Linked DNA regions of Homo sapiens. The protein of the gene in region 1 purifies or fractionates together with the protein of each later gene. This does not show direct contact. Each region holds a gene or a part of one and is shown on either strand. Other genes may lie near its edges.

Region 1 (3,500 bases):
TAATGAATGGCACCTCTGGAAAATTTGGAAAAACAAGAAAACTTCCAGTCAGTAGAATCAATTAAGAACATACCTCTCCTTTTTCTCTGAATGAAAAACCCCCATCAATGTAATAGGAAACCATGAATAACATCCTAAGCCATATTTTAATAGAATTTTTCCCTCAGATATCAACCGTCCCCCATCAGGAATGTACTGCTTTTGGTGAATGTTTGCGTAAAAGGGAAGTGAGTGATCCTCCAGGCAGGTCTACCTCTTCCTGCTTGCCATTCCATATTGTCTCCCTGCTCTGTCTCCCTCCTGTCCTGCAATGGTCCAAATGGACACATTTACAAGAATAAAATAACATCAAAGAAAAGCCGACAAACCCGGAAAAAAGTAGCTAAGAAGGCAGACAACACATGAAATTGAAGCAACTGAAGGGCTAACATTTATTGAGCCCCTCCTTTTTTGCCATGATCTTTGATATGTGCTTTAAATTAAAAAAGTGAAATAGGCAGTTTCCTAATTTTTTAAACTGATAATACATTACAATAGAGTAGGATATGTTTTTTTAAAATAATAGCATATTAAGATCATCTATAATTTAAGTAAACAAAATTTGGGTAAAATCCAGGAGTTTAAAATCATTTTGTAATCAACTTTGAAATGCATTGGTTTTTTTAAAGTAATGTTTTTAAAAACTGAAAATCAGGACTCTTGAAAATGTATAAGAAAAATCAGTCAATTTGTAAACGTCTTCCCCACAATTCTCCCTCCGGGTTTTCGCTTTCTCCCTTCTCACAAGCACCCCACTCATGTCTCTGCCTATTGCCCCTAATTCCGGAAGCCAGCACTGGTATATTCAGGTATGGCAGAGGGCATCAAGCACACCTGGCATGGCCTCCCCAAAGCAACAGGAGGAAGTAGGGGAGGTGCTGTTTCCCAGCACTGCGGTAGCCCTTTGGTGGAAAGTTAGGTTTCCTAATCAGCTCAGGAGGGTGCAACAGGCAACGAGACAGGTCAATCCTTTCACTTCAGGCTGAATATGATGCTGGAATTCCCAAGACCTTAACTTTGCACATTTTGAAGAAAGTGGGGCTTTACATGCGTTCATATCCTCTACTGGGCCTCTTTCTGGCCACCAGACATGCGGTTAGCAAAATGACAAGCAGTCCTGTGATACTCAGGCCCATGGCCACAGGGATTTCTCTCCTGTTTCTGTCACTGAAGCATTCATCCGCTGTAATTGAAGTCAGAGTAACAAGTGTTACAGACTGGCCACAAATGCTGGGAAGTGGCACTGCCACATCTGCCTCAGCTTTGGAGAAAAGAAGACAGAGGGGAAGATGGAGCTGTTGGGGCTCAGACAACAGTGGGTGAAAACGAGAGGGAAAGGGTCAATACAGTGGATCTGACACGTGTAGCACTGGTAATTAGTTAGGGAGCTTATTAAATTGCAGATGCCCAGACACATGCCCAAGAAATGATAATTCAGTGGGTCTGAGCTGAGGCCAGGGGAATTCTGATGCTGCTTCCAGGCAGATCCAACTTTGAGAAAATGCTAGTTTGGCCTAGAGGGTTGTGATCAGAGTTATGTCTTGACTCTCAAACTAGAGTAATTCCCGGAGCCATATTCTCCAACTCTAGTAATAGTTTGAGACAGAGTCTCACTGTGTCACCCAGGCCAGAATGCAGTGACACAATCTCGGCTCACTGCAACCTCCGCCTCCTGATTTCAAGTGATTTTTATCCCTCAGCCTCCCGAGTAGCTGGGATTACAGGCATGTACCACCATGCCGGGCTAGTTTTTTGTATGTTTAGTAGAGATGGGGTTTTGCTATGTTGGCCAGGCTGGTCTCATAGTCCTGGCCTCAAGTGATCCACCTGCCTTGGCCTCCCAAAGTGCTGGGATTACAGGAGTCAGCCAACACGCCCAGTCCTAACTCTGTGTTTCTTACAGGGGCTGCTCAGATAGCTTGGGGCTCCTAAATCAGCATAATAAACAGCAAAAGAAAAGGACAGCAAAAACCCTAAAACTCAATAAACAAAACACAATGTTTGCAGGCTCCAGGATTTTAGGGAGGAGGAGATTTTAGGAGTCAGGAGTCTACTGTTTGGGATGACCATTATCTTTTACAAGGCTCAGCTTTGACACTTGCTGGATTCCTCTCCAGTTCTTCGATCCCCTGTTTAAAAATCGCCTATCACTCAAGACTTCTTTAGTCCACCCTCTCATCACCAATGCTGTCAGTCACAACTTCCTCTGGGCTCCCATAACCCTTTGCACATGTGTCTTTTAAACACCATATAGTATGGTAACTTGCTCCTCTTTTCCCCCTTCTCTTACTCTCTAGTAGAAAATCCTATTTACAGAATGACATACCTCTTCACATTTGAGCATCTTTAGTGAAATTTGAAGTGCAAAGACTAAGAAGATGGCGTTGAGTTGATACGGTGACAGTGGGAGAACAAGGGGAACATTTTGGAAGTGGAATTGTTAGGGCTTTGTGACTATTTGTATGAGAGGGTGCTGGAGGGAGAGGAGTTAAGGAGAACTCTGAAGTCTGTTGTTTGGAAAACTATCCAGTTAATGATGGTTTTAAGAAAAAAAAAAATGTAAAGACAAGCGAGCTTTTCTATGCATCCCTGTGAACACTGGCGTGCACTGCTGAAACGTTTTATTTCCTACCTCTGCCACTAAGAAGTTTCCCAGACCTGATCACTTCCTGCTTCATAGAGGTTCTGAAGGGGAAGAAGAGCAAGTGTGTACCTTTTTTTAAGATCACACGATTACAGAAGTTTTTCAAACCTTCATAATGATTGTAAAAGAAAGAAATAGTTTTCCAACACTAGCATTTTTGAGAGTGGATGACAAATGGGGCCAACCTCTACTGGCAAATTCTCATATGACTGTGGGACTCCGACAAAGCCTACAGAAACCAGGGGACCCAAGGCAAGCAATGGCCAGTCCTTCCTCTGCCAAATGCTTCCCACTGAGTACATGAGGAGAAGTTTTCTGCTACACACATCTGCAATTTCATGATGGAACCCAAAGCAAAATCAGATTCATATTGTAGACATTTAAAATACGGCTAAACTTCTAGCTAAATCTATTTTTGATAACTGGGAAGTACTCATCACATTTTTTAGTTATTATGAGAGGGATGTTTTAGAAATTGAAGTACATGACCCTCCTGGTCATATGTAGAAATCCTCGTAACACTGTTTTCCTGGAAGGGAGAAGAGGGCTTTTTCTGGCATATGACTCTCCTGGTCATAGGCAGAAATCCTTATAACAATGTGTTCCTGGAAGGGAGAAGAGGGCTTTTCTGGAAAGTCACCCTGGTCTGCTCTTGGCCCTTGCCCAGGGACCTGTTTTCCTCCAGGGCAGTCATCAGGCAAGCTCTGCCTGTGATGGTCAGAACTCAAGGCAGAAGTTAGAGGGAAACTAAAACTGACTATGAGGAAACACTGTTGGGTGTGACAGCTTATAACTGGAGACGAGGGGCTCCAACAGC
Region 2 (3,500 bases), on another chromosome or scaffold:
ATATTAGGGGAGAGGATCAGGGCTGCAGGGACTGTATAGTGTAGATGTTAGCTAGGAGTGTATTCTTTGGGACCCTAGACTTCTGTGTTCAAACCTCCTGCCTTCCACTTGCTACGTTTGTGATCTTGGACAAGTTACTTCCTTATAGGATTATTGTAAAGATTAAGTTAATTGACATGTGCAAAAAACTTGGCATGTAGTAGGTGCTCAGTAAATGCTTGCTATTACTTTTTTATTATTATTATTTTAAGCTGTGACAAACCACAGCAGCTGTAATTACTCTGGTTTGATGTTCTTAACCTTAGTTCCTCGTTCAGGAATGACTTACTGCTCTATTTGGTTTGTAGATGCAGTAAATAAGAATGTAATTACGTGATTGAAAGGCTGTGTTGGAGTATTAACTTCCTAAACTCAATGAAGACAGGGGTTGTCCTTTGTAAAAATTGTGATAATCATGATGGAGCAGATTTGGAGTAATCTCAATGATTCGTCCGCACTATACACCAAAAGCATAAATAGGGACTGCCCAAGTAGGGGATAGTGCCCTTCCAACCTTTATCTGGAGAAATCAAGACAGCCTGTGAGAGTATTCATCGCCCCAAGGATACTGTTGCTCTTTACCTTGTTATGAAACTTTGATATATATTAATAATCTTCAACCTTTCAGCCCTCTGTTGGAGAATATAATTACATTCTTAAACCTCCCTTTTATAATTGTCTTATTTAAGACTCATCTTCTCCCATCATGTATCTTTAAGTTATGTTTCTGCTCTTAAACTATATGAAGTTTGGAGGCTTAATAGGATAATCTATTTAAAATTCGATATGGAAAAATTTATCTATGGCTGGGCACTGTGGTTCATGCCTGTAATTCCAGCGCTTTAGGAGGCCAAGGTGGGCAGATTGCATGAGCCCAGGAGTTTGAGACCAGCCTGTGCAACATGGCAAAACCCCATCTCTAAAAAAATATATAAAAATTAGCTGGGTGTGGTAGTGCATGCCTGTAGTCCCGGCTACTTGGGAGGCTGAGGTGGGAGGATGACTTGAACCTAGGAAATGGAGGTTGCAGTGAGTTGAGATCATGCCATTGCACTCCAGCCGAGACAGCAGGGTGAGACCCTCACACAAAAGTGCTAAGTAATGGCTAGGTGCTCTATAATTACTAGTTGTCATTATTCTCAGCCATTATCAAGAAAATTTAAAAAGAATAGTAAACATACGTATTTTCATATGAAATTGAATGACTTTTAAAGATCACATGTTGTATTATATCTCCTATGTACTAAGCATTTCTGAGTTCCAGGCACAGTAAAGTGGGCTTTTCATGCAATTTAGTTCTCACTATTATCATCATTCCCACTGAGGCCCAGAGAAGTTAAGTTGGCCAGGGTAACTCAGTAAGTGATGGAACCAGGGTATAAACACAGGCAATCTGGCTCCATAGTCCAAGATCTTAACTATTACTACCATGTTTTCTTGCTTCTCCATATGAAAGTTGTTATGTTTGAAATACTCAGTAGAGTTTTTAAAACAATCAGTATACCGCAGTGGAGTTTCAGGAGACTGTATTTTCTATAGCTGAATTTTGAGATATGTTTGAAAGCCTTGAGTCAAAAAGATCACAGCTCTTTTCTTCAGGTTTTTACTACATATATACTAGGTTTACTTTAATTAGGGGCTAATGGAAAGAAGGAAATGAGAGTAAAGAGCTGGTTACACATAAGTTTCATTTGAGTTATTCAGTTTTTCTTTTTTTTTTTTGAGACAGGATCTTGCTCTGTGGCCCAGGCTGGAGTGCAGTGGTGGGGTGCGATCTCAGGTCACTGCAACCTCTCCATCCCTGGCTCAGGTGATCCTCCCATTTCAGCCTCCCAAGTAGCTAGGACTACAGGGGCGTACCACCCACCTGGCTAATTTTTCTGTTTTTAGTAGAGACGGGGTTTTTCTGTTGTCTGGGCTGGAGTTAATCAGTTTTTCTAATTGATGATATCTCTTCATCAGCAGTAAACTCCCTCTTATTAATTCTGGAGTTGTGACCTGTTATTAATTCTGGATTGTGATTCATTTCTTTGGGTACAGCAGGCAATGGGAGACCAAGGCTAAGGAAGAGAGCAACTTGCCCATCCACATCCACACAGCTGGGTGGGGAAACGTAGCTGCAGCACATGATGTAGCTTCACATAGATCATAACATCCATTCTTAGATTTGCTCCTCTGTTTAATATACGAGATTTAGGATGTGGATGGGTCATTGGTGACCTTAGCTTGAGCTTTTTTGATGCTGTGATGGAGGTGAAAGCCAGACTGGCATGGGTTGAGGCGTGGGAGGTGAGGAAACAGATGGTGAGCATAGTCAGCTCTCCCAAAGTTTGGTTGTGTTGTAAAGAGGAAGAAGGAGTGGCTCCTGGGAGTTGTTTGTTTATTTAAAGGTAGAAAAGATTTTAACTTTAAATATTGTTAAGGGATCCAGTTAAGGAAGTATATTCCTAAATCTTAGTTGTATATGAATGTGTGTAAGACATACAAATGGGCATTTATCATATGGACATCTGTGTGTCCATATGATACATAAATTGCTTTTTCTTCCATATGATCCTTTTATTCTAATTTTGATGTGTTCAGAAAAACCATTCTCATCATGAGGATTACTGTGAAACTTGAAAAATATAAAAAACATCTCTAAATTGATGTAACGTGGCGGGGCATGGTGGCTCACGCCTGTAATCTCAGTACTTTGGGAGGTCGAGGCGGGCGGCTCAGTTGAGGCCAGGGGTTCAAGACTAGCCTGGCCAAAATGGCGAAACCCCATCTGTACTAAAATACAAAAATTAGCTGGGCGTGGTGGCGCACACCCGTAATCCCAGCTACTTGGGAGGCTGAGGCAGGAGAATTGCTTGAACCCGGGAGGTGGAGGTTGCAGTGAGCCAAGATGGCGCCACTGCACTCCAGCCTTGGCAACAGAGCGAGACTCTGTCTCAAAAAAAAAAAAATTAAAAAATAAATAAATAAATTGACATAACAAGACTTTAAATTGAAATGCAGAATAAAGCCTTTAATTTTAGCAAATTCTAGTGTTTTGATGAGACATTTCGTTTATAAGTGCTATGTATCATAAAAATTTTGAGAAATAACAGGACTCAGGACCCTGGAAGATTACTTTTTGTTGAAAACCACTGTGGATTCTTCAGGAGGAGGTTATCTGTCTGGAAGCAGCATCAAAAAACTGGATTGTTCTTGATTATTGAAAAGCATTTATATGTAGGATTGGCAGAGAGTTGATTGAGACTTTGAAAGTTTGATTTGCTTATTGATAGTCCAGTGATCCCTCTTTGGGCCGCAGTTTCCCAAGGTGATAAAGATAGTAATACCTTTGTCACAGGATTATTGCAAAGGTTAAATGGACTAGTGCAGTAAGTAACTGGCACAGTACCTGGCACCTAACAGATGACCTGCTGAAATTCAGAGGCATTGGTGTTGCAATCTTTTTTTTTTTTTTTTTT
Region 3 (3,500 bases), on another chromosome or scaffold:
GTCAGCAAGATGGTGGTTGGAGTCTTCTGATTGGACACACCAGGGTCACCTCCCTCCCATCGCCTGCCACCAAGGGAAGCAGAAGTTATGGGGCCTTCTTTCAAAATCCCAATTCAGGCAGCACAGATTTGAACACCTACTGTATGCATGAGTGTCAGTAATGTGGGTGCCCAGAGGCACTCTGCTTCAGCTGGATGAGCAGCTACTAGAGACACAACTTCAGTTAAAAAGGAGATGAACTGGGCAAGTGCAAAGTTCTTGGTCAATAACAAGCTCTGCCTTAGTCTTTCATTCCATGTTTACTGAGCATCTACTCTAAGCATCTACATGTTTGCCAGGTGCTGGCATGAAACTTTTATGTCTGTGTCTTCAAATAATTCACAATCTGCTAGGCAATGTATTTTTTATTTGCAAGCACTCAATAGCAGATATACTGCTAGCTTGAATCCTGTCTGAAACAAGGTAGGTATAGACAAATGCATAATTACCTGCCTTATGAGATGCAAATGAGATGCCCAAGGTGCCAGCTGGTAGGGCAGAGGAAAGAATGCAGGATTCGGGGGAGAACTGAAGAAGAGACAGACAACTGGATCTCAAAGGAGGGAAGGATACTCCAGGCTGCTCAGAGGTGGGCCAGCCGGGGCATTCGTGGAGAATGTGAAGTGACTGCGTTGGTTGGAGAGAGTATGTGAGTGGGAAGAGTGACTGTGAAAATGGGAAGGGTGAGAAACACGATTGGGAAAGCAGCTGGAATCAGGCTGAGGAGAACCCTGGGGACTTAGACATTTACTCTGTGAATAATGGGAAGCCACTAAAGGTCTTAGAGCAGGGGTATGACAGAATCAGAGCTGCTGTTCATAAGGGCAAACTGGGCTAAATGGAGGGAAAGGGAAGCCAGGAGCCTCAGACCTATCCTGGAGCAGAGGTGAAAGAACCATAGAAACAGATCTCAGCACTCTGGGGGGCCAAGGTGGGAGGATTGCAGTGAGCTATGATCGCATCACTGCACTCCAGCCTGGGCAACACAGCAAGACCCTATCTCTAAAAAGAAATGACAGAGAGAGAGAGAGAGAGAGAGAGGCTGCAGTGAGAGCAAGGGAAGGGGGAAGGGGAAGACAGGAAACTCAATGTATTCGCTCACCTTTGGGGCCACTGCAGAGAGGCCAGGGCCACCAAGAGGCCAAGCTGTTCCCTGCCCAACCAGGTCCTGGCTCCTGGCCTGCCGCTGGCCATGTGACCCCATGCACAGCCCGTGCGCCCTCAGGTGGGGACGCAGTGCAGGAGGGAAAATGAGCCACTTTCCTCACCCACTGGAGAGGTGGCCACGCTCCCAGCTGATCCCGGACCTGCTCCCGACCCCATGACATTAAGCATCAGTAGGACCATCTCAGTCCAGATGGAGCTCCGGCCTCCACTGATATTTGCTGCTCAAATGGGTCTGGAATCATCCCTGGTCAATTTCCTTGTCAAGCTCCATCAGGATGCTGCTCCTACCCCAGCAGCCAAAGTCCCCGAGGTGACCGCACTGAGACACAGGGATGGCCCCGATGCCAGGCAGCTGCTCCACACACTGCCCTTCACAAATGGAATTGTCATTAACAGTGACATTATCAGTAGAGAATGACCCCATGAGCTTTTTCCCTTCAAATTTTTATTCCTTCATTCCCACTTAGTACAAAAAAAAGTTAACTTTCTCACTTATAACTTGTCATATTAGCATCATTATGCTAATATGTTCTGATTGAAATAAAATTCAGGTAGAACCAACCAACCTCCCTCCAAAATGTCGACCATTACTAAGGTATCTCCTCTAGAGGCCCTGAACTATGGTGGTGCTTCATAAGTACCCCTCCCCAAGCAAGTTCAAAGTTATTTCCACTCCTTCTTTTCTGTTTTCACTGCATGACTATTCTGTGGAAATAACATTTCTTAGAACAACTACATAGAAGCTGATAAACATTGATTCTAGCCTTTAATGGCATATTCTTTTCCACTGGGATTTTTCATCTTGGGGGTCAGTGGTGGCAGCACAGACCCTCACAGCATCTGTCTGGCTAAATGGAAAGAGATTCCTGGTGGCAACTGAACACCAAGGGCGATGCTGTCAACAGAGTTGGCTATAGAACCGGCTTTTCATCATTTCCTGATGACATGACACCCAGGAGTGTCTGTACCCTCTTAGGACAAGAGCTTCAGGCTGAGCCACATCTGGTTTTCAAGAGGAAAGGTGAGACTTAAACCAAGATTGGGGTGGGAGTCACTTTTATTATGACTTGTGCTTTACACAACCCTTTATAAAAATTCCTAAAATACAAACATTAGCAGGGTGTGGTGGTATGCACCTGTAGTCTCAGCCACTTGGGAGGCTAAGGCAGGAGGATCACTTCAGCCCAGGAGTTTGAGGCTGCAGAGAGCCATGATCACACCACTGCATTCCAGCCTGGGCAAAGGAACAAGAGCCTGTCTCTTAAAAAAAAAAAAATAACAACAACAACAAAACTAAAAAATATTAATCTAGGAGCAATACTAAATTCCACAATTACTCAGTTGAAGAAACTGCAAAGCCAATTACAATGTATCTTCAGAGTCATCCCTTGGAATTGAAAATTGGGATGATAAATTCTGGGCTTCCAAAGATTCGAGGAGTCATACCCTGCAAGAAGATCATGGATCAAGACTGGGATCCCATGGATGGGTGGCACCCGGGGCCTGCAGGGTGCTGGGTGTGCGGGGAAGGGAAGGGGGCATCCCAGCACAGAGTGCATCCCAGGAGGCCCAGGGCAACTTTGCCTATGGGGCCACTTGGCTGAGATTCCCCTCATGCTGCCTTCTCTCTGGCAGGTGCTTTTTGCCTCTGGCTACCAACACCCCAGCACTTCTCTTCACTTGAAAGGGCCAGCACCTGGAGAGGATGTGGAGAAATAGGAACACTTTTACACTGTTGGTGGGACTGTAAACTCGTTCAACCATTGTGGAAGTCAGTGTGGCGATTCCTCAGGGATCTAGAACTAGAAATGCCATTTGACCCAGCCATCCCATTACTGGGTATACCCAAAGGATTATAAATCATGCTGCTGTAAAGACACATGCACACGTATGTTTATAGCGGCACTATTCACAATAGCAAAGACTTGGAACCAATGTAAATGTCCAACAACGGTAGACTAGATTAAGAAAATGTGGCACATATACACCATGGAATACTATGCAGCCATAAAAAATGATGAGTTCATGTCCTTTGTAGGGACATGGATGAAACTGGAAACCATCATTCTCAGCAAACTATCGCAAGGACAAAAAACCAAACACCGCATGTTCTCACTCATAGGTGGGAATTGAACAATGAGAACACATGGACACAGGAAGGGGAACATCACACACCAGGGACTGTTGTGGGGTGGGGGGAGTGGGGAGGGATAGCATTAGGAGATATACCTAATGCTAAATGACGAGTTAATGGGTGCAGCACACCAACATGGCACATGTATACATATGTAACA
Region 4 (3,500 bases), on another chromosome or scaffold:
CAAAGGCAGAATTTAAATCTGAAATTAAACTAAAACACTAGGGTTAAAAATAACTTTAAGGCATAAATCACCAAAGAGGGTGAGTGAAACAGAGAAAAACAAGGAGCCTTTCTAACCAGCGCCTAAAGCCGAGGCAAAGACTCAATTACCGGTCAGCAGATCCATCTCCAGCAATGCCTGGAACAAGCTGGGGTGTTTGTCTTTCAGCTCCTTCTCCCAGGGGAAGGCTCTGCACATCGAGGGTCTCCCATACCTGCGCTGGAGGTCCAGGTAGGAGTTGTGGAGGTGGCCTACACAGAAGAGGGAGCAGAAGATATCACACCCTTTAGCAGAAGATAAGACTCACCTCCCTAAAGCCCTTCTTCCTAACAGGAACTAGAAAGACTTGCCATTACTGGATGTTGGTTTTGGTCCTTTTGGGATTTGAAATTGGCTATGATGCTTTTGCCTCCAGGTCACAAATTCAGAGCCAAGTCCATGAGAAATGTGCCAAAGTTGCTGATGGCTGTTGAATAATTCTACAGAATGAGCAGCTGGCCTCTGACCGGTCCCCAGGAGGCCAATATCTAGGCCATTTTTTGGCATGTGAGTTGAGGAGCAAAGCACAAAGACCCTCAGGGAGGCAAAGCAGTTCAAGATGATAGGAAAATCTTCCTAATGCCACCAAACAGATGGGTGTGCATGCCTGGCCTTCTATCTCAGGGTATGTCTCCTGAGAGTACATAAGTTACCAAAGTCAGTTTCTTTCCTCTTTGGGTTATTACTATTCCTATATATCTTCCCCCTCCTGTTGACAGCATCATATTTTCCGGATGATTCAGCAGTGAGAGCAGCAGCTGGGGACCAGTATAGCCTATTCTTAAATTGAATTGCAGAAGCACTATCTTTCCACACTCACCTGTCACCATCTGTAATCACTACCTGGGACCATTTCATGTGAACCCTATTGGACTGGGGCATGTTTGAGATGCATCCCTCCCTCCACGACCTGGAATGAGAAGTTCCGCTCTGGAGATAGAGACATATGGGCAGGACTGAAATACTCAATTCGCTTTTGCTGATGGCAAAGGTCCCACAGGAATTTCTCTTCCAGAAGGAACATATGTGAGTAACTCTAGTGCCACCATATCAAACAGCAAGATCCACAGCACAGAGAAATGTGTAAGTGCTAGATCCAAGCTGGAACACTGGCGAACCAGACAGGACCAAGTTTTGTAACTGATAAACACCCTGTGTGAGTAAAAGGATGTCTGTGCAAATATGAGCATGCATGAAAGCAGTCTATTTGAAATTCATTCCTTCTGTTAAAAATTACCGATGTCTTCGAGAATGAGTCAATTTCAAGGATTTAAAAAATAAAACCAAGCTCCAAACAACAAAGTCACCATTCAACATTTCTGAAAGCTAATATTCAGATATCAATGGCCCAAAACAAAAGTGCACTGATGGGGAAACATTTCTAATGATTAATTTATTTTCCAGTTCATTTTTATTTTCTTAGGCTGGCCTTATGGTTGGGAATAACGCCATGCGAAGGCACAAAACACTCGCTTTCATTTGTACTTGTAAACTAGATTTTTATGGTTGGAGCTATAAGATGTTTTGGTTCTTCTTGGCTGTCATTGGTCTTGGTAGAATCCAGGTGGAATGTACAATTTCACCTGTATCCACCAGTGGAGGGCTCAAGGTCACACTTGTCCCATCTGGTATCTGAGCCAAGTCATATATGTTTAATTTTAATCCTGTTATGGAGAAGCCAAACATGTGTTTATGTAAATGCACAGAGCTTAAAACAGCTCCCCTGAAGCTCAACACTTACATGCTTCTTGTCTCTCGCCCCCGTGCTTTGCTGCAGATGCATACACAGATACTATTTCTTGAACCTCAGCACACCTTTCATAATATAACTTGATTTGTTCAGCAAGTTGCTTCTCAAGGAGGGGATTAAAAATCTACAAGAAGGCAAGAAAGTCAAATGAACAACAATTGTCATCAAATATCCATCCACCTCTAGGAGGATGTGTTTGGGTTGACTTTGTTCTCCCATTGACATCTCCAGGTGGCTCGTTTGTACACATATCATCCACTCTGGATTTGCAAAGCAAGGTCATTGGTACTAATTCAAGGACATGCCAGCTCTGATGGCTTCCCTTCAGCTTCTCTTTGTGTCCAGCTTCTTAAATGTCAGAATTTCCCAGAGACTGGGACTCTTCCCTCTTCTTTTCTCTGGCTGCACTCTGTCCCTAGAAAATCACACTCACCTCCCCCTTCAATTCCCACGAAAAGATGCAAGGGTACCCACGACGTGCCTGCTGCATCAAAGAGAGCCCTCCTCCCCTCTTCTGCAACCTCCAAGAGCTGGCTGCAAGGCCATGGCTTCAGGACAGGCCCCCCTAGTGGCTCACCCCATCTCACTTACGGGCCGATGTATCCGTTCCTGCCTCAGCACTCCCAAACACATCTGAATTAAAGCATGTACTGTATTCTTTCATGAATTCCCTGTTTAAGATCCCGAAAGGGAGCGCCTCAGGAACAAGGGACTTAGCTCAGTGTGCTTCAAAATAGAGGCTGGGACCCATTAGAGGGTCACACAGTTATTTCAGTGGGTGGGAACCTCCAGAGTTTTGGTGGTGTTTTTTGTTTCTATAAAGTAGAACACAAAATATCAGCGTGCACTGAATATAGCAAGGGTATGTATTCTTAGAATAATTTTGTTTCCATTTTATGTGTGAATATATGTATGCATATGTATATGTACTGTTCATGATATTAAACACATTTCTTTCTTTCTTTTTTTAATTTTTTTTATTTGAGACAGTCCTGCTCTTGTCACCCAGGCTGCAGTGCAGTCGCACAATCTTGGCTCACTGCAACCTCTGCCTCCTGGGTTCAAGTGAGCACGTCCAGCTAATTTTTGTATTTTTAGTAGACACGGGGTTTCACCTTGTTGGCTGGTCTCAAACTCCTGACTTCAAGTGATCCGCCTGCCTCGGCCTCCCAAAGCGCTGGGATTACAGGTGTGAGCCACCACGCTTGGCTGATATTAAGCAGATTTCTTATTGTGGACAACCTTCAAAACAATTTTAAACCTATCCATCTTGCTTGTCTCAACACCTAGTTCAAAGCCTGGCATACAGTAGGTTCTCAATAAGCATTTGTTGCACAAATGACTATTTCATTTTTTTCCCTTTTCACAAAAGTGTCTCACAGAGGCTGTAAGATATCACCCATGGGCAGCAGGACTCCCCATTTTTCCTGATTATGACTTTGCCTAGTGACCCCTGTTTTTCTCAGAATAAACCCCACAGGGTGAAGGGAATGACAGAATGTTTCTCTTTCAGGTATCAGGTGGGGTTCTTGATCTCCTTAAAGCAGCCCAGAAAACAAGTGCCCTGAAGGCTCCCTCATAGGGAAATAGCCCTCTCCCCCGACCAGTCCAGCTGTGTTGGCTGGAAGCGTTGGACAGTTCCATTCGGGGGCGGGTTATGGATGTGGAAGGC
Region 5 (3,500 bases), on another chromosome or scaffold:
GCTAATTTTTTGTATTTTTAGTAGAGATGGGGTTTCACCATGTTGGCCATGCTGGTCTTGAGCTCCTGACCTCAGGAGATCCACCCACCTCATCCTCCCAAAGTGCTGGGATTACAGGCATGAGCCACCACACCTGGCCTTATTTTATTTCTTCATACCTTTATTTTACCCTCAGCTCAGTTTCCTCATTCATATTTGTTAATTTGTCGGAAACAGTTCTCGCTCTGTTGTCCAGAGAATTGTGGCAGGTGATCCGCCCGCCTCAGCCTCCCTAAGTGCTGGGATTACAGGCTTGAGCCACCACGCCTGGCAGAAACAATTCTTAAACAACTTTTTTGAACTCTAAAGGGGTTATATATTTAGACAAAAACACAAGAAAAATAGGCCCAAAAGCCAGCCTCCCCAGAGAGCATGTGGGTGTACCAGCCTCCTCTTTGCTACCCACCGCTCTCCTTCTCCTGCTTTGGGTGCCTCCTAAATTTCATTATACACTTAACACAGGGATTCTCTAGTCTGGAGAGTGATGATTTTGAAAAACAGAATTGAAATACATTCATGATTTCAACTGATACTTAAATAGCTTGGTGTTAAGAGATGCACAATTCACATCTTTTTATTTTTTACAGAGTCCAGTAAAAGGTGAAAACGGCAAAATAATTTTGGAAACAAAGGCAGTGATTCCCGGTGACGAAGATGCTTCGTTTCCCCCTCTGAAGTCTGAGGACAGTGGGATCGGGCTCAGTGCCTCGTCACCGGAGCTCTCTGAGCACTTGAGGGTTCCTCGAGTTTCTCTGGAAAGGGACGACGTTTGGAAGAAGGGCGGGAGCATGCAGAGGACGTTTCTTTGCATCCAAGAGCTAATCGCCAACTTTGCCAGCAAGAACATTTTTGGAGTACAGCTGACAGCGTCAGGAGAAGAAAGCAAGTCCGAGGAGCCTGCAGGGAAGAGGGACAGGGATGGGACGCAGAGCCTGGCAGCCAATGATTCCAGCAGGAAGAACTCTTGGGAGCCCAAGCCCATCACTGTGCCTCAGTTCAAGCAGATGCTGTCAGACTTGTTCACAGCACGAGGGTCTCCATTCAAGACAAAAAGTTCAGAGTCACCATCGTCTTCGCCCAGCAGCCCTGCCAGGAAAAACGGGGGAGAATGGGATGTTGAGAAGGTGGTCATTGACCTGGGGGGTTCCAGGGAGGAACGCAGGGAGGCCTTTGCCGCCGCCTGCCACCTGCTGCTGGATTGTGCCACTTTCCCTGTCTACCTGTCCGAGGAAGAGACCGAGCAGCTCTGTGCAACGCTCTTCCAGCTGCCAGGTGAGAGGCAGCCCTGCCGAAGTCCCTCTTTGGGAATCATACGATGAGGCGATTGACGTGGGTGGAATATCCCCTATCCACAATGCTAGGGACCAAATGTATTTTGGATTTCGGACTTTTTTCAGATTTTTGGAATATTTGCCTTACACTTACCGATTCAGCATTCCTAATCCAGAAATCCAAAATCCAAGAGCTCCAGTGACTGTTTCCTTCGAGCATCATGTCAGTGCTAATAAGGTTTCAGGTTTTGGATTTGGAATTTTCAGATTAGAGATTCTCAACCTATATTTAAAGACTAGCTCAAATTGTGTAAGCCAAGAAGGTGCTATTGGCCTCATTTGTTCCCTTCCTCATTTGTAATTAGTACATTTTTGACTTGTGTCTCACCACATGGCAAAGTGGTAAGGGTGGGGCCTATGTTTTTAAACCCTGGGTGTCCAGCACAGCCCATCAGAAGACCTAGAACATGAGTGGCATTCAGTGATAGTAAATAGACTATTTCATGATGCCTGTTGATAAAGTTTTTTTTGTGTTGGGTTTTTTTGTTTTTTTTTTTTTTTTGAGACAGGGTCTGGCTCTGTTGCCCAGGCTGGAGTGTGGTGACACCAACTCAGCTCACTGCAACCTCCGCCTCCTGGGTTCAAGTGATTCTTCTGCCTCAGCTTCCCCAGTAGCTGGGACTACAGGCACGTGCCACTACGCCCAGCTAATTTTTTTTTTTTTTTTTTTTGAGACAGCGTCTTGCTCTGTCGCCAGGCTGGAGTGCAGTGGCGCGATCTTGGCTCACTACAGCCTCCGCCTCCCGGGTTCAAGTGATTCTCCTACCTCAGCCTCCCAAGTATCTGGGGTTACAGGCACACGCCACCACACCCAGCTAATTTTTGTATTTTTAGTAGAGACAGGGTTTCACCATGTTGGCCAGGATGGTCTCAATCTTTTGACCTCGCGATCCACCCGCCTAGGCCTCCCAAAGTGCTGGGGTTACAGGCGTGAGCCACTGCACCTGGCCCCCTAATTTTCATATTTTTAGTAGAGATGGGGTTTCACCATGTTGGCCAGGCTGGTCTCAAACTCCTGGCCTCATATGATCTGCCCGCCTTGGCCTCCCAAAGTGCTGGGATTACAGGCATGAGCCACCGTGCCTGGCCAATATTTTATATATTGGTTTGCTAGGGCTCCTCTAACAAAGTACCATAAACTGAGAAATTTGTCTCATAGTTCTGGAAGCCAGAAGTCCAAGATCAAGGTGTCAGCAGAGCCATACTCCTCCTCTGAGACCCTGGATGGAATACTTTTTGGCCTCTTCAGCTTCTGGTGCTGGCCGGCAACCCTTGGAGGGCTCCTCACCTTGCAGCTGCATCAGTCCCGTCTCTGCCTTTGTCTTCACAGGGTGTCCTCTGTATGTCCTGTCTTCCCTTGACATGTCCCTCTTACAAGGACACCAGTCATATTGGATTAGGGCCCACCCTAACAACCTCATCTTAATTTGATTACCTCTGTAAGGACCTTATTTCCAAATAAGTCTCACCAGCGGGAGGTTAGCGCACTGCTGTCCAGGTGGATTTCTCAGGTAACTTCCCAGATCTAGGGTGCTGTAGAATCTGCAGACTGGGGACCCATTCTCACGTGGTTCTGCTTGTTTCTGCCTCTCCGGCTGGCTTCCTTTCAGGAGCCGGTGATTCCAGTTTTCCATCTTGGCTGAAGTCCCTCATGACTATTTGCTGCTGTGTGACTGACTGCTACCTCCAGAACGTGGCCATTTCCACTCTGCTGGAAGTGATAAACCATTCCCAGTCCCTGGCGCTTGTCATTGAAGACAAGATGAAACGCTATAAGAGCTCTGGACACAACCCTTTTTTTGGCAAGCTGCAGATGGTGACGGTTCCTCCCATTGCTCCAGGGATATTGAAAGTCATTGCAGAGAAAACAGATTTCTATCAGGTATTTCCCACTGGGAACACTCTTCTTATGGCCTCCTTCTCCCCCTGAGCAAAACTCAGAACCGTATTGCTGGGGATGGGGGCAGTGGCCCACTTCTCTGAGAGTGATATTCTATAGGGCACTGGGCAGAGGCAGTAGCCTTTGGTCTTCCTCTCCCAGCATGTAACTTTCACCCTCCAGGAAAGCTACAGTGAGAGCAACTGGGGCCCCAGTATTCTGGGCCTGCCAGGACTGAGTGGAACCCCTGC
Region 6 (4,266 bases), on another chromosome or scaffold:
TGAGCCACCACGCCCAGCCCATTATGTTTTCTTTACATTAATATTAAAGTTCGCGTTCCAAATACTAAAGTTAAGTCAAATTATTGACTAAGCATTGGCCATTACAGGATCTACAAAGTGTGTCAACCCTGTATGGACAATCAAAAGTTGCTCTGCCTATCTGTGAATACCAGCTCCGCCACTTAATAGTTAGCTAAGGTTTGGTAGCTCACATAATTATCTCTGCTGCCTTAGTTTTCTCATCTGCAAATTGGGTGTAATGGTAAATACCTACCTCATAAGGTTACTCTGAGATTTAAATGAGTTAATACACATAAGGCACGTAGAATAATACCTGATCCTGGGTATACATTTCAGAATACCACCTATGATTACCATGATTATTATGTGGAGTAAAAACATCTTGATCATCACACTGTTTCTATCATTCTTCTAGGTCCAATGCCAGTGCTACAGTGGGAAGCTCCTTTGCAAAGAATTCCATCCCAGGCAGAAGGCAATGCTTTAGGACCCTAAGAGAGACCCATTCCCAAAGCTCACAGGGAACATGGCTGGAGTCCAAGAGGCTGTTCTGCCAGAGAAGCGCTCTGGCACCAGAGGGCAAATCCCCATTTTTCCCCAAGGTGGAAACCACCCACAGTCATCTCCAAACACCATGCTCCAGCAGGAGCCACAGCTTGGAGCCTCAGCAGCCCCGCCACTGCAGAGGTGCAGCTGCACGAGTCAGTCAGGGGACAGGGCATCAGTCACCCGGAGGCTACAGGCAGGAAGCCAGTGTGGGGGGCTCGGGTGGGAACAAGCCACGGACAGGAAAGCATTCACACAGGGTGGGTCCCCATGCTCTCCCATCTCCTCATTGGCGGCCACAGTGCGGGTCCTGGATGACAAGCAAAGGCCATGCTTTCTTGTCTCTCAGTAACTTGAGCATCTCAGAATCACAACCCCAAACCCGAATAAACCTCAGTGGCAATTTTCAAAAGTTTTGACCCAAACTAACCCCTTACCTGGCTGCACTAAGAGGCAACCCCAAACCCCTATTTATTAAAAAGCTACATCTTTTTCTGTTTTCATTCCAACAAAGATAGCAAATAGGTGCCCTCCCTGAAAGGCAACAACCACAGCAGGGAGACCCCACTCTAGTCCTCAGCGTGCGCCTTCCCGGGAATCAGAAGCAGGACTGGGAAAGCCACCCTCACAACTTCTCTCCGGGGGACCCCCTGCAGATCTGCGTGGGGGTGAGGGGAAATGACTGAACAGCAGCAGACGCCGAGCCTGGAGGTGAAGACAAGCTGGGTAATGTGGTGCTGGAAAAAAGAAACCAAGCACAAAAACAAGCACACGGAAAAAAAGGAGGAAGGAAAGAAAGGGCACCCAACAACGCACTGATTTATCCCATGAAATAGCTCCCCTTTCTCTTCCCAGCCTAATCAACACCTCCATGAACCCCTGCAAAATGGGCATTTCTGACTGCACACCTGTGCGTGAATCCACACTGACAGATACTGATGCAGAGCAAATACTGATTGTGTGAGGGAAGGAAATAACTTGAACTTCAGACTCATTCGGCAGGTCCTGATTCTCTTTCACTATCAGCCTCCCCACCTATTCTGAGCCGCTCCGAAACAAAACAAACAAGACCCAACTCCTGGGCAGAAAGGGAACAGCAGCTGAGCTGAGCAGCACATGCTTGGAGCGTTCCTGCCATCGACTTCGGATTATTTCTGCTTTCTTGAGACACAGCCATCAGCATGGGACTCGATGCAGCCCGGAGAGAGCACCGCCCGCGCAGCGACGCGCACAGACCCTCCCTTGGAGACGCGCTCCCCGGCGCGTGCGGCCGAGCCCGCGTGAAATGCACAGACCCTCCGGTGAGGCTCTGCCCACGTGTGACCCTGAGCACTGCGAAGCCCTTCCCTTCCATCCTCGCGTGGCCACCCAAAGTCTTGCCTACACCTCGTACGTGCAGATGCCAATTCCATAGAAATACATGATGTAAGGACAGAAATGGGAACGACTGGAGGCTGATCTTCTCGTGACCACGTCTCGCCAACGCGGTGCGCCCATGCACACGGCGAGTAAACGCACACAGCCGGTAAACAGCCATCCCCACCATGCTCAGCCCACAGTCACGCGTGGGGAGAAGGCAGCGGAGAGGGCGGCGGTGGCAGGAGAAGTGGGAAGTCGCGCGCCCGCGTGGGCTGCTCCCTGACAGCCCGGCGCTGCCCCCTCCCCCTCCCGGGAACGGCGCCCACCCGGGGGTCGCAGGCCCACGCGTCGGGCGCGCTCGGGGGGGCTCCGCAGCGCCGAGAACGGGACAATGAGGACGCGGTGACAGGCTGGGTTTCTGCCGCGGTAGTGGCGGCGGCGGCAGCTGGAGCTGCCCGTGCAGCCCCTGCCGCGGCCACCTCCACCCTCGCCTCCCCGGTCCCCACTTACGTTCCGAGGGTCTCTTTGAACTCGAAGATCTTCTTGATGTCTTCAGCTTGCTTTTTCCAGGAGGAGCTGCTCTCGCCGTTCTCCCGGGCCATGGCCGACGAGCGCGGCGCGGAGGAGCGGCCGGGGGCGCGCTGGGGAGGGGGCGCCGGGGGCGCGGCGCGGGCGCAGAGGCGGCGGGGATGCCGGGCGGCTCGGGCTGCGGCGCAGCTTCCTCCTCTGCAGTTTCCTCTTTCGCTCTCGCCGCCGCCGCCGCGGCCGCGGTCCCTCCCTGGCTCTTATTTCTGCTGTTCTCGGGCACAGACTTCCTGCCGCCGCCGCGCGCCGGCTCCTTTGCCGCCGCCTGCCAGCCTCACTTTCTGCTACTTTCTTGCCTCCCTCCCGCTCCCTCCCTGCCGCCCGCCGCGCTCCCCCCCACCTCGCGCCTCCTCCCCCTCCTCCCCCTCCTCCCCCTCCCGCGGGCTCCCCGCCCTCTCCGTGCGCCCCGGCCGCTCCCCGCCTCCAGCGCGCCGCCTTCGGGGATGTCCCGCTCCCCTCCCAAGAGCGCCGGGCCACGGCCGTCGTGCCCCCTGGAGCCCCGGCGAGGGCGGGTACGGGCCCCCGGCAGGTGCGGGGCGCACGCGGGAGAGCCCCAGCCCCTCCGGGAGCTGGAAACGGAGCCCAGTCTGGGGGCGCCGGGGCTTTCCCGTCTCCGGCGGGAGGGGGCGCCTCTGCGTGGCTCGGAAGCGCCGGGCGGGCGGGGGTGCGCGGCGGCCGGATGCGGGGCGCCGAGGGCGGGGCGCCTTCCCGCGCTGTGGCCTGTGGCCCGGGGGACCCGAGGGGCAAGGCGTGGGGTGGGGGGGGTGGGGGCCGGTTGTTATGGCGACGGGCGGCGGCGGCGGCTGGGATGGAGGCGGAGGCGGGCGGGAGCTCATTCGCATTGCACCAAATCGGTTTCACGTCAGTTTCGGGACAGACCCGCGAGGAGCAAGCCGGGGAGCCTCTGGGCGGGTACGCGCAGGACGCGCCAGCAGCTGCCTCGTGGTCCCTTTGCGAGCAAAACTCCCGGGGGTGTTTGGCAGCCGCGCGGGCGCCCTGGTGCTGGGCTGGAGCGGCCGGCGGGCCTGGCCGGCCTGGTTGCCCTGGCTCACGCTTGGCCCCTTCTGGCATCTCCCTGTCTCCTCCCAGAGACTCAGTGGAAAGAAGTGATCGTCTGCCCCGCAGTCCCCTCGAAGGAGGAGCCCACCCGCGGCTGGCTTAGTAGGGTGTCCGGGTTGCGGGGCAGGCACCTGCTTTCCTATGGACTGCCAAAACTAACCCAGAGAATTCCCTCCGGACTCCCATCTCCCAGCTGTACTTTGGCCTGCCCGCCCCACTCCTGGTGTCCACCTGTCAGAGGGCAGCCCACGTGCTCCAGTTCCCTGGTCCCCAACCTGCAGGGGCGACCTCTTGATCGGAAAATTTTAGATTTCTTGGTATCAACACTTCGCCTCCCTCAGGGCCTCTCCTCGTAGTTGGGTAAACAGCTCTGTCTCTTGACTGGGGACACCTGTCCCATTTTCCCAGGACTGTTCCAATTTCACTGTAAAAGGAAAAAAAAAATCTGCTCCCTGAATAGGAAACTTCATCCAGCACCTTGTGCCTAGTTCTGACTCTGGCTGAAGTGGAGGCAGCCCAGCTGCTCTCCCTCAGCCCCTACTCTGACCCTAAAGAGGTCAGACGACACCCTGGCATCCCCATTCCTGGGACCTCCATGCTAGTTTCCATCTTTCAAAGACGGTTAGCTTAAGGTTTTCCAAACTGAGAAGAGCAAAGAGGGGATTTACTTGCCGGTTAGATGTAGAATAAATCCAC
Region 7 (2,774 bases), on another chromosome or scaffold:
GATTGTTGAGTATGTTTTGCTTACACTTAAGGCCAAATTCTTCCTTGAAGATGAGCTTGTCAATAAACATCAATGGAAAAATAACCCCAAATTTGTGACTTCTGGGGAATTTGAATTTAAAGAGAATATCTGTAGGATAACAGACTGTGGGTTTCTAGTCGTTGGATTAACATGTTTTGTTTAGCATGCTTAGTGTGGGAGTGTTCAAGGATCTTAGAATTTGTTTTTCTTAAAGCAAAGAATTGACTGAGTTTTTGTGCTCATTTGTATAATGAGAAGGTTTCCTCCCATCATGTGGGTTCGTATCTCAAAATTAACCCCTAAGTATATATCCTCAAATGTGTATCCTCATGTGTTAAACAGCTATATATTAGTTCAATATGAATTTTTTTTAGTAACAAGTGAATTTTTCTCAAAATAACATGAAATTTTTCAGAAGCCAAGTGCTTGCAGTGATGGCAGTTCATCTTGGTACATAGAATCAAGTCCAGGAGCTCTTCCAGTGACCTGGGTCTTTCAGAAGTCTGTGAGAGCAGCCCAAGAAATACAGAGGACTCAGGGCTAGGAAAGGGAAGCTTCCTGAAGGTGTAGCAGGCAGCTTGTAAATAATTCTTTGGCCGGGTCCAGTGGTTCATGCCTGTAATCTCAGCACTTTGGAGGCCAAAGCAGGCTGATCACTAGGTCAGGAGTTCAAGACCAGCCTGGCCAACATAGTGAAACCCCATCTCTACTAAAAATACAAAAATTAGCTGCGCGTGGGGGCGCAACCTATAGTCCCAGCTACTCAAGAGGCCGAGGCAGGAGAATCGCTTGAACCTGGGAGGTGGAGGTTGTGGTGAGCCGAGATCATGCCAAGCACTCCAGCCTGGGCAACAGAGCAAGACTCTGCCTCAAAAAAAAAAAAATTCTTTAATAGCATATTGTTAAAATTGCTTCAAATAGTATAACAAATTAATAGTCTCTGTATGAATTGTAATAATCACTTAGCTCTTTTAGCATTGTTACCTTTATAAAATATGTATGTAGTAAAGGAGTTTGGGAATATATCTTTCTTTCTCTTTTAGGTGTAAAATTGTGGAAAAGGAGACAGTCTTACTACTGATCAGGCTGATTAAAAATGTAGAATGGGCCGGGCGTGGTGGTTCATGCCTGTAATCCCAGCACTTTGGGAGGCCGAGGCAGGCAGACCACGAGGTCTAGAGTTCAAGACCATCCTGACCAACATGGTGAAACACCGTCTCTACTAAAAATACAAAAAATGAGCTGGGCATGGTGGCACGCACCTGTAGTCCCAGCTACTCAGGAGGCTGAGACAGGAGTATCGCTTGAACCCGGGAGGTGGAGCTTGCAGTGAGCCCAGATCACACCACTGCACTCCAGCCTGGCAACAGAGCGAGACTCCATCTCAAATAAATAAATAAATAAATAAATAAATAAAAATGTGGAATGAATTAGGCAAGTTGGGCTGCTAATGCCTTGCCACTGAATTGAACAGCCACAGACAAACCAGAATGCACTTCTCAGGGCAAAAGAACAAATATTGATGAAGTCAATCCCAACATGCTCATTCCTTTTCCCTAATCTCATCTATTAGATGAGTTCCTCCTTCTCCCAAAGAGGAGTAGGTGAGAGGAGGTGAGAAAGAGGCCATGTCCCACTCTCCTGTGCTTCCAGGGATCAGAATTTCCCTCCCTATTAGGGAAATGCGTTTAAAAAAAAAAAAAAAACACGCCAGTTTGGTTGGGATGTTTTTAGTATGCTAAAACGTTTATGTTTACCCAGCTCATGAGTCAGAAGTTATTTTGCTGCTTATAAATTCATTTTGCCATAGTATGATAAATAGCTTTTAATGTTGTAAGCAAATAGGGCATTGGATAGCAGCACTAAGTCATTGAAAACAAAAACTTCTTTATTGGTGTTTGGTTTTTATATAGTTTAGGGAAAGGCTCTTTAAACCAAGTTTCAGGTGAAAAAATGAAAAAACTTTTTAAGGATTTTAGATAACATGCCAAGCACAGTGACTCATGCCTGTAATCCCAGTAGTGAATCTGAGAAGCGCAGGCTTCCCAGATCGCTTGAGCTCAGGAGTTGAAGACCAGCCTGGGCAACATAATGAGATCCCGTCTGTACAAATAATTTAAAAATTAGCCAGCCATGGTGGTGTGCGCCTATAGTTCTAGCTATTTGGGAGGCTCAGGCTGGACGCTGAGCCTGGAGGACCACTTGAACCCAGGAGTTGGGGCTGAGTGAGCCATGATCGTGCCACTGTACTTCAGCCTGAGTGACAGAGTGAGATCCTGATGCTTAAGTTTAAAAAAAAAAAAAAAGATTTTAGATAACAACTATGGAAATGAAATCATTTTCGTTTGGTTTATATCTTCTCCACATCTTTTCTAACTTTGCGTTCTATTCTTAACCCTAAGGTAAAAATGCATTTGCAAAGGGAGAAAATGAAGGCCAAACAGAAGCAGGCTCCAGCTTCTGCAAAAACTTGGATTCACAAATGTCCCTGAACAGAAAATGAAGCTCACTTCAGAACACACACTCTCTGCCTTGAAAACTAAAGAGACTATTACTTCCTTTTCACATGACCACAAGTCCTCTGATGGAAATGTACAGCAGAAACTCTTGAGAGAGAGGCTAAAAGCAACTCTGTTCTCCCCCTTCCCCTAGACTTTTCTTACGAAAAGTCAATAATTAAGCAAATTGCTTAACACTTGGTTCCAGTTCCTGCCTATCTGGAGTTTAAATGCGTAATACACCATTAATTTCCA

What was found.
Region 2: the proteins of LAMP3 (region 1) and ARFGEF2 purify together in Homo sapiens (affinity purification with mass spectrometry; 2 studies listed by BioGRID and IntAct, with this or other methods). This does not show direct contact.
Region 3: the proteins of LAMP3 (region 1) and HSPA12A purify together in Homo sapiens (affinity purification with mass spectrometry; 2 studies listed by BioGRID and IntAct, with this or other methods). This does not show direct contact.
Region 4: the proteins of LAMP3 (region 1) and SEL1L3 purify together in Homo sapiens (affinity purification with mass spectrometry; 2 studies listed by BioGRID and IntAct, with this or other methods). This does not show direct contact.
Region 5: the proteins of LAMP3 (region 1) and DOP1B purify together in Homo sapiens (affinity purification with mass spectrometry; 2 studies listed by BioGRID and IntAct, with this or other methods). This does not show direct contact.
Region 6: the proteins of LAMP3 (region 1) and CAMK1D purify together in Homo sapiens (affinity purification with mass spectrometry; 2 studies listed by BioGRID and IntAct, with this or other methods). This does not show direct contact.
Region 7: the proteins of LAMP3 (region 1) and PDS5A purify together in Homo sapiens (affinity purification with mass spectrometry; 2 studies listed by BioGRID and IntAct, with this or other methods). This does not show direct contact.

Annotation. Positions count from the first base shown.
Region 1 is NC_000003.12:183,131,735-183,135,234, forward strand, and holds part of LAMP3 (lysosome-associated membrane glycoprotein 3 precursor), read right to left. Parts: intron 1,223-3,500; coding exon of another isoform or gene 1,083-1,222; exon of another isoform or gene 1-1,082. UniProt on the Homo sapiens protein: Lysosomal membrane glycoprotein which plays a role in the unfolded protein response (UPR) that contributes to protein degradation and cell survival during proteasomal dysfunction.
Region 2 is NC_000020.11:48,924,711-48,928,210, forward strand, and holds part of ARFGEF2 (brefeldin A-inhibited guanine nucleotide-exchange protein 2), read left to right. Parts: intron 1-3,500. UniProt on the Homo sapiens protein: Promotes guanine-nucleotide exchange on ARF1 and ARF3 and to a lower extent on ARF5 and ARF6. Promotes the activation of ARF1/ARF5/ARF6 through replacement of GDP with GTP. Involved in the regulation of Golgi vesicular transport.
Region 3 is NC_000010.11:116,701,067-116,704,566, forward strand, and holds part of HSPA12A (heat shock 70 kDa protein 12A), read right to left. Parts: intron 64-3,500; coding exon 1-63. UniProt on the Homo sapiens protein: Adapter protein for SORL1, but not SORT1. Delays SORL1 internalization and affects SORL1 subcellular localization.
Region 4 is NC_000004.12:25,817,989-25,821,488, forward strand, and holds part of SEL1L3 (protein sel-1 homolog 3), read right to left. Parts: intron 1,953-3,500; coding exon 1,820-1,952; intron 291-1,819; coding exon 150-290; intron 1-149.
Region 5 is NC_000021.9:36,229,824-36,233,323, forward strand, and holds part of DOP1B (protein DOP1B), read left to right. Parts: intron 1-626; coding exon 627-1,311; intron 1,312-2,980; coding exon 2,981-3,252; intron 3,253-3,500.
Region 6 is NC_000010.11:12,348,081-12,352,346, reverse strand, and holds the start of CAMK1D (calcium/calmodulin-dependent protein kinase type 1D), read right to left. Parts: upstream 2,801-4,266; 5' UTR 2,529-2,800; coding exon 2,437-2,528; intron 1-2,436. UniProt on the Homo sapiens protein: Calcium/calmodulin-dependent protein kinase that operates in the calcium-triggered CaMKK-CaMK1 signaling cascade and, upon calcium influx, activates CREB-dependent gene transcription, regulates calcium-mediated granulocyte function and respiratory burst and promotes basal dendritic growth of hippocampal neurons.
Region 7 is NC_000004.12:39,825,138-39,827,911, reverse strand, and holds part of PDS5A (sister chromatid cohesion protein PDS5 homolog A), read left to right. Parts: intron 1-2,423; coding exon 2,424-2,427; 3' UTR 2,428-2,774. UniProt on the Homo sapiens protein: Probable regulator of sister chromatid cohesion in mitosis which may stabilize cohesin complex association with chromatin. May couple sister chromatid cohesion during mitosis to DNA replication.